Regions from separate parts of the Homo sapiens genome. Here region 1 is linked to region 2. A link means that fine-mapping ties the variant in region 2 to the expression of a gene that starts in the linked region. Tissue or cell type: T cells. Region 2 holds a variant in brackets; the other region holds the start of a gene. All regions are shown on one strand. Distances are between the middles of the regions.

Region 1 (4,158 bases), 68 kb after region 2:
GTAATCCCAGCACTTTGGGAACCCGAGGTCGGCGGATCACTTAAGGTCAGGAGTTCGAGACCAGCCTGGCCAACATGATGAAACACCGTCTCTACTAAAAATACAAAAATTAGCCTGGTGTGGTGGCATCGCCTGTAATCCCAGCTACTCGGGAGAGTGAGGCAAAGAATCACTTGAGCCGGGAGGCGGAGGTTGCGGTGAGCCAAGATCACGCCACTGCAATCAAGCCTGGGCGAGACTCCGTCTCAACAAAAACAACAACAACAAAATATTTAGAGCACGGCCATATTAGGAACTATAGAGACCCTAAATACTAAAAGCGTTATGGCACCTGTTTGCCTGCTTGTAATATAAAATTAAAATTCCAAAGGTAGAAATGTACTGGGATGCAGAGATTAAGACAGCATCTTCCTGGATTTTCTGATTGCAAACTTCAGATAAATCCACTGAAGTCAAATGTTTCTCATGTTTTTGGTTAGCTTTTTGGTCAAGCCAGCATGACTTTTTCATTTTTTATTATTATTTTTTTGAGACAGAGTCTCACTGTTGCCCAGGCTGGAGTGCAGTGGCATGATCTCGGTTCACTCCAGCTTCCGCCTCCCAGGTTCAAGCGACTCTCCTGCCTCACCCTCCCAAGTAGCTGGGATTACAGGTGCGTGCCACCACTAATTTAGCCCAGCTAATTTTTGTATTTTTAGTAGAGATTAGGTTTCGCCATGTTGGCCAGGCTGGTCTCGAACCCCTGACCTCAGGTGATCCGCCAGCCTCGGCCTCCCAAAGTGCTGGGATTACAGGCGTGAGCCACCATACCCAGCCAGCATGACTATTAACTGAAAAAAAAAAAAAAACCTCAGGGTGTGGAAGTGCTCAGAGGCATTCAATGCTGATGTAGCGTGTCAAGGAAGCAGTCTCTTAAGTGTTGGGCAAATGAAAGGAATAAGACAAAATGAAGTGTTTATCAAGCTCAAAAGCAGAAGGTTGTACCTGATTATTTCTAAGGTCTTTCATTTGCTCATTTAATCTAAGCTACTTCACATCATTTGAAGAGAAAGTAAATTATCTCGCTTTCTGAGATGCAGGAGAGATTCCCCGTCCCCAAATCCCACTATCATCAACAACACAACTTCCTCAAGTTCTTCACTCACACACATACCACCTGCTGAACCCTGAAGCTTCAGTCACTCATTCCTAGCTACTCCAACCACAAGGGACCTACGGGCCTGCCAACCAGGCACACGCCACGCCCTCCCTATGGTGGACTCCTATTCATCCTCCAAGACCCAATTTAACTCCTCCTCTCTGAAGCCTTCCCCTAGCCCCCTGGTGGGGATAATCACTCCCTTCTTGGTGCCTCATCCGAATGCCTTCTTTAGACATCCCTCTACTGTGCGTCTGCCCCATTATACTGTCAGCTCCTTGAGGCCAAGGAATAAGTCTGAGGGCTGTGCCTAGGATAGGATGAATGGCGGCCATTTTACAGATGAGAAAAGCAAGTCTCCAGGTGAACAGAGGAGCTGAGGAAACTGACCAACAGCCAGATCTCCCGACTCGTCCAGACTTTAAAAGCTGAGTCCACCATTACCCTCATCCAGCGACCCCAGAACCCGCGCCAACTTCTGGGGACGCGGAAGCCTGGAAACTCAAGTTTTCTTTAGGGAATGAATGGACAGGGGCCCGTGGAAGGCGCAGAGAGGCAGCAGACGGGGAGAGAACCAAGAACCCGCCAGTCTGGCTTCAGATTGCTCCGCTGGACCGCGGTAGCGGCCAGGGATTCTACGGTCAAGACAACTTGGGGGTGGCCGGTCGACCACCAGAACCCGACAGAGAGGAATTCACACTCTCAGACCCAGGCCGACCCCATCACAAGTAAGGACAGCCCCTCTCCAAAGCCCACCCGCCGCTGCTTCCTTACCAAGGAAAGACGGCCATCTTCCCAGTCACATGACCGCTTGTTCTGGGGCCGTCTGCTCGGCTTCCCATCCTTACCCCGCCACTCCCCGCACCCCTCGGCCGCCATGTTTGTGAAGGGCAGCTGGCCGCCCCGCAGCGGCCGCACAGCACCTTCTGCAGACGCCATGCTTGTGAGGGGCAGGCGACGCTCCGCACAGCACAGGCTTCATTTTCAGCTGACGCCATGCTTGTGAGGGGCAGCTCCCCGCTCCGGACAGCCCGGGTTACAACTCCCGCCGGCGCCATGCTTCGGAGGAGCAACGTCGGCCACGGCCAGAGTGCCGTAGTTTCTATGAGTCATGATTGTAAAGGGCAGCTGTCTACAGTGCCGGGTGGTCCCGCCTGCGGGCGTCATGATGGTAAAGGGCATGACTGCTGCTTAGCTCACCTGCGTCCTCTAGGGGCAGAAAGGACTCCAGAAGGCGGCGGAGCGAAGACGCAAACTGAGGTTCAGCCAGTACCTGGTTTTGCGGCTAATACGCTGTTTGGCGTGGGACAGCCATGCCCCCTCTAGGCCGCTGCTTTACCCACTGCTTTGCGGGCGGTTTTAGACACTTGCAGAATGCCCTTCCCACGACTAGCAACCGAGGGCTGCCCTAGATCTAATATGATTGACTACAGCTAATGCACGTGGGGAAATTAGGGTTCGCATTTCGTCCAACTTGGCAAAGCAGTGTTTCTAGGAAGGTGGATATCCATTTCGACCACAGAACGTTTTTAAAAATTATTTTAGGCCGGGAGCGGTGGCTCAGGCCTATGATCCCAGAACTTCGGGAGGCCGAGGTGGGTGGTTCACCTGATGTCAGGAGTTCGGGACCAGCCTGGCCAACATGGTGAAACCCCGTCTCTACTAAAAAATACAAAAACTAGTTGGGTATGGTGGCGGGCGCCTGTAATCCCAGCTACTCGGGAGGCTGAGGCAGGAGAATTGCTCCAACCCGGGAGGATGAGGTTGCAGTGAGCCGAGATTGCGCCATTGCACTCCAGCCTGGGCTACAAGAGCGAAACTCCATCTCAAAAAAAAATTTTTTTTTTAATTATTACTTTTATAACTTACTTAGATATCCATTATGGTCCCTTAGAGAGAAAGCATTCGATGTTTTTATAACTCTTACTTTTCATTCGGGGGTGGTGGTCTGTGGTTGTTCATGAGATGGTGACCTATGACAGGGAAAAGGATCATCTCCAGAACGGGCCCTCCAGTGTTCAGCTCAGTATGAGTAGGAAAGTATATCCACTCGTACCTGCTATTCCCAACACTGGAAGTGAACAAGGGTTAAAGGGTGGCCACGGGAAAGCAAGGAGCTCTTCCCATACAGCCATGCATGTTATCACATGCAACATCTCAATAAGAGGTCAAGGTGAGGAGCCTTTTCCTAGGCTCACACTGCATGATTAGGCAGTAACAAGAGGAGGATTCTTAAAGTTGTGCAAATTAACAGCTTTGATGTGAGCTTCAACCTTCGCATTCTCTTTTCTCCCTCTCCTTCCCTTAGCAGGCTTCTATCTCTTAATAAGTTAAGACATTTCCAGCCTGAGTTTTACCTTCTGAAAAGTCCAACTTTTAGTAGAGACGGGGTTTCACTATGTTGGCCAGGCTGGTCTCAAACTCCTGACCTCAGGTGATCCTCCCGCCTTGGCCTCCCAAAGTGTTGGGATTACAGGCGTGAGCCACTGCACCTGGCCCAGGGGACATATTAAATAATGAGATATATCTTTCATGGAACTTGTAAAGAATGATTATATACAATATTTGTTTTGGCCTAATACTTTTCAATATCTGTTTCTTTTTTCTTTTTTGTTTTGGAGACAAAGTCTCATTCAGGCTGGAGTGCAGTGGTGCGATTATAGCTCACTGCCACCTGTAACTCCTGGGTTCAAGTGATCCTCCTGCCTCAGCCTCCAGCGTACCTAGGACTACAGATGTGAACCACCATGCCTGGCTAATATCGGTTTCTTTTTTGTTTTGTTTTGAGATGGAGTCTTGCTCTGTCACCCAGGCTGCAGTGCAGTGGCACAATCTCGGCTCACTATAGCCTCCCCATCCCAGGCTCAGGCGATTCTCCTGCTTCAGCCTCCCAAGTAGCTGGAACTACAGGCATGCACCACTACGCCCAGCTAATTTTGTATTTTTAGTAGAGACGGGGTTTCACCATGTTAGCCAGGCTGATCTCAAACTCCTGATCTCATGATCCACCCACCTTGGCC
Region 2 (4,000 bases):
GTCCTGGCATCAGGCACACTTGGATTCAAATCCAACCTCACCAACTACCAATGATGAGACTTCGGAAGAGTTGCCAACTCTGTCGAACCTGGGTCTCCTTGTCCTTATTGAAAGGCTACAAGTGGTATCATCTCATCTGTGGGGTCACTACAGGATGATGGGAGATAACTCCTGCACTCCAGGGCATGAATGAGAACGATAATTACTCTGCTCCCCACCTCTTCTGTAACCCCACATTCTTCCCCATTTTAAGAGGTGCCCAAGGTGCACTTAGTAATATCAGCAACAAACACTGGGCTAGAGCTTAGTGCCCACCAGCCATGGTGAGAAGCACTTTGCACTCACGATCTTACCTCTCCCAACCACCCTTGAAGCAGGGGCTCTATTCTCCCATTTCACAGATGAAAAACAAAGCCACGAATAGCAGTGTTTTTCACCCAAGGTCGCACAGTTAGTGATGGCAGGCAGACATGAACCTGGGCAGACTGGGATCAAAGGCCACGTTCTTCAATACATTTCTTCTCCAACACAGTTTGAAGTCTATTTTCCCCGCCTCCGCCAAAGGAAGCAGATTTTTTTTTTTTAACTCATTGGAATACTGTTAATGGCTTTGGAGCTATCTTAAGACAATTACATATCTTTAAAAGAGCTCCTGTTTTTAAGAAAATCAATGGAAGAAGGATCATTTAGGGCAGTGGTTTGGGGAAGGTCAAGCCCAAGACCAGAGGTAATTACAGGACACTGAGCACTGCCCAGGTTTCGGGCTAAGTCCTTGACTTCCCTTTACTCTCTTACTCTTCACCATGTCCTTGTGAGGTCCATGGAACATTATCCCCATTTTACAGATGCAAAAGCCAAAGCTCAGACAGGGTTAAGACACTTCCTAATAAGTGGCAAAAATGGGATTTGTGCAGGCCAGGGGTGGTGGCTCATGCCTGTAATCCCAGCACTTTGGGAGGCTGAGGTGGGAAGCTCGCTTGAGCCCAGGAATTCAAGACCAGTCTGGGCAATATAGTGAGATCCCATCTCTACATAAGTATTTTTGTTTGTTTGTTTGTTTGTTTTTTGAGACAGAGAGACGAGTCTTACTCTGTTGCCCAGGCTGGAGTGCAGTGACGCGATCTCGGCTCACCAGAACCTCCGCCTCTTGGGTTCAAGAGATTCTCCTGCCTCAGCCTCCCGAGTAGCTGGGACTATAGGTGTGTGCCATCATGCCTGGCTAATTTTTTTGTATTTTTAGTAGAGATGGGGTTTCACCCTGTTAGCCAGGCTGGCCTTGAACTCCTGACCTCAGGCAATCTGCCCGCCTCAGCCCTGCAAAGTGCTGGGATTACAGGAGTGAGCCACCGCGCCCAGTCATAAAATTTTTTAAAAAATTAGCTGGGTGTGGTGGTACGTGCCTGTGGTCCCAGCTACTCAGGAGGCTGAGGTGGGAGGATCACTTGAGCCCAGGAGGTGGAGGCTGCAGTGAGCTGTGATTGTGCCACTGAACTCCAGCCTGGGCACCAGAGTGAGACCTATCTCAAAAAAAAAAAAAAAAAAAAAAAAAAAGACCTGGTAGGCACGATGGCTCATGCCTGTAATCCCAGCACTTTGAGAGGCTGATGGGGACAGATGGCTTGACCTTAGGAGTTCAAGACCAGTCTGGGCAACATGGCGAAACCTCATCTCTAAAAGAAATTTAAAAATTAGCCAAGCATGGTGGTGTGTGCTTATAGTCCCAGCTAGTCAGAAGGCTAAGGTGGGGGCATCACTTGAGCCTGGGAGGTCGAGACTGCAGTAAGCCAAGACTGCACCACAGCACTTCAGCCTGGGCAACAGAGCAAGACCCTGTCTTAAAA[CAATAATAATAATAATAAT/T]AATAATAATAATAATAATAATAATAATAATAAATAAATAAGTAAAAAGTAAAAAATAAAGAAAAAAAAGGGATCTATATCTACGTCTGGACCCAAAGTAAAAAAATAAAAGGAGGGTTCTTAAGTGCAATTCCACCCTTTCTGGTGGCACCCCTCTCTGTCATGTTGCCTGAATAAGTGAGAGCTGACGTTGGAGATACTGTTGGAATCCCTACCCCAAAACCCTGATTTTATTCAGATTTCCATCTATGCCTCACATAAACTAGGTTGGCTTCTGTCACGGACTGAATTATATCTCCCCTAAATTGCTATGTTGGAGCCCTAACCCCTAATATCACTATTCTAGGTTAAATGGAGTCATAAGGGTGGGATCCGAATCCCACAGGACTAACCTCCTTATAGGAAGAGACAGCAAGGATGCGTGTACACAGAGGAAAAGCCATGTGAGAACACGGCAAGAAGGTGGCAGTTTCCAAGCCAAGGAGAGAGGCCTCACCAGAAACCAACCTTGCTGGCCCCTTGATCTTGGTCTCCTAGCCTTCAGAACTATGAGAAAATAAAGTCTGTTGTTTAAGCTCCTAGTCTGGGTATTTTGTTAAGGGAGCCCAAGCAGATTAATACAGACCCAAACCAATCACAGTGGCTCTCGTTCCCCTTGCCCATGATCCATTTCTAGCTGCTGAGACAGGATGGGAAGTCTTCGGGGGGATTTGGAGAAAGGTTTCCTGTTCTTAAACAAGGACCCAAGAATCAAAGATTCCCTGGATGCTGTCGGCTCTGGACGTGATGCCTGGAATGGTTGCCCCCACCTTGCTACTAATCAGGGACAGCAGAGCAAAAAGATGCACTGAAGCTGATCACCCGAGAGCCTCCACTTGTTGTGGAGGAGGACACATGGAATTATATGTGGAGGCCAGACTAGTTAGATGTTTGTTCCTTGCAGCCAAAAGCACCCTAGCTGGTGACAAAATTGACCACATCATAAATGGCTTCCCTAACCCACTCTTGGGTATTTACATTTGAAAAGTCATTCTTAAAGACCAATAGCAAAGTGGCCTTTGGAAAAGGCTAAGAGAGGAAAAGAGATTCTGTGTAATCATCACACTGACACTCCCTGACACACAGAAATAATCATTCAACGCCTACCTAACGAGCAACTTTAGTATACAGTTGACCCTTGAATAACAACATGGTTTTGAGCTGCGTGGATCCACTTAGACACGGATTTTTTTCAACCATATGCTGAACGAAAATACAGTATTTGTGAGACACCAAACTCAAGTATACACGGGTTCCACAGGGCCAACTGTGAGACTGTGAGACTTGAGTCTCACAGCATGGATTTTGATATACGTGGGGGCCGGGCACAGTGGCTCACGCCTGTAATCCCAGCACTTTGGAGGCTCAGGTGGGTGGATCACCTGAGGTAAGGATTTCGAGACCAGCCTGGCCAAGATGATGAGACCCTGTCTCTACTAAAAATACAAAAATTAGCCGGGCGTGGTGGCGTGGCTGTAGTCCCAGTTACTTGGGAGGCTGAGGCAGGAGAACTGCTTGAACCCGGGAGGCAGAAGTTGCCATGAGTGGAGATCGGGCCATTGCACTCCAGCCTGGGTGACAGAGCAGGACTCCGTCTTAAAAAAAAAAAAAAAAAAAAAAGATATACATGGAGATCCTGGAATCAATCCCCTAAGTATACCAAGGGATGACTATACCAGCCACTGTTCCAGACACTGAGGGTAAGATGGGAGGAAAACACAGAAACCCATGCCTTCGTGAGGTTTACTGTATCTCATATGCATGCACGTGCACACACACATGCACACATACACACACACATAAATGAGACCTCCTGGCCCACCAATTCTGGAAAGATTAACTAGGGCAAATCCCAACATATGGACAAAAGATTCTTACCACTAAGACAAGTTAAATGCTTAAAAAGTTCCCTCTCTCACAAAAGATGAATGCACTAAAAATGCATCCAAGAATATAACTTTAAAAAACCAAAGGCTCTGTTGTCATAAAGGAACTTGGGAATACATGTAAGTGTTCGGAGAGCCAAATGTTATAGATCCTCGGGCAGGTCTGCTGGAGGTTACTGATTTTTTCCCCTCTAAGAAGTGACAGAATTGATTATC

Which allele goes with the higher level. Alleles are on the strand shown, and positions count from the first base shown. SD is a standard deviation of normalised expression in the study named.
For the expression in T cells of the gene that starts at base 1,956 in region 1, allele CAATAATAATAATAATAAT in region 2 goes with a higher level than allele T (moderate effect, 0.57 SD a copy in GENCORD).

The links. PIP is the estimated chance that this variant, and not a neighbour inherited with it, causes the effect.
Region 1: it holds the start of VPS35L, and the variant in region 2 is fine-mapped to the expression of VPS35L in T cells (GENCORD, PIP 0.95).

Annotation. Positions count from the first base shown.
Region 1 is chr16:19,553,501-19,557,658 of GRCh38, reverse strand. VPS35L (VPS35 endosomal protein sorting factor like) reads right to left here and starts at 1,956. Exons shown (of 31, transcript NM_020314.7): 1 at 1,913-1,956. The coding sequence starts at 1,929. RefSeq lists enhancers at 1,272-1,501, 1,360-2,322, 1,882-2,361.
Region 2 is chr16:19,621,659-19,625,658 of GRCh38, reverse strand. The region is part of intron 14 of VPS35L (VPS35 endosomal protein sorting factor like); the gene reads right to left. Among named protein-coding and RNA genes, the nearest start is that of VPS35L, 68 kb to the right of the region's middle. The variant CAATAATAATAATAATAAT/T (reference allele first, on the strand shown) is at 1,842.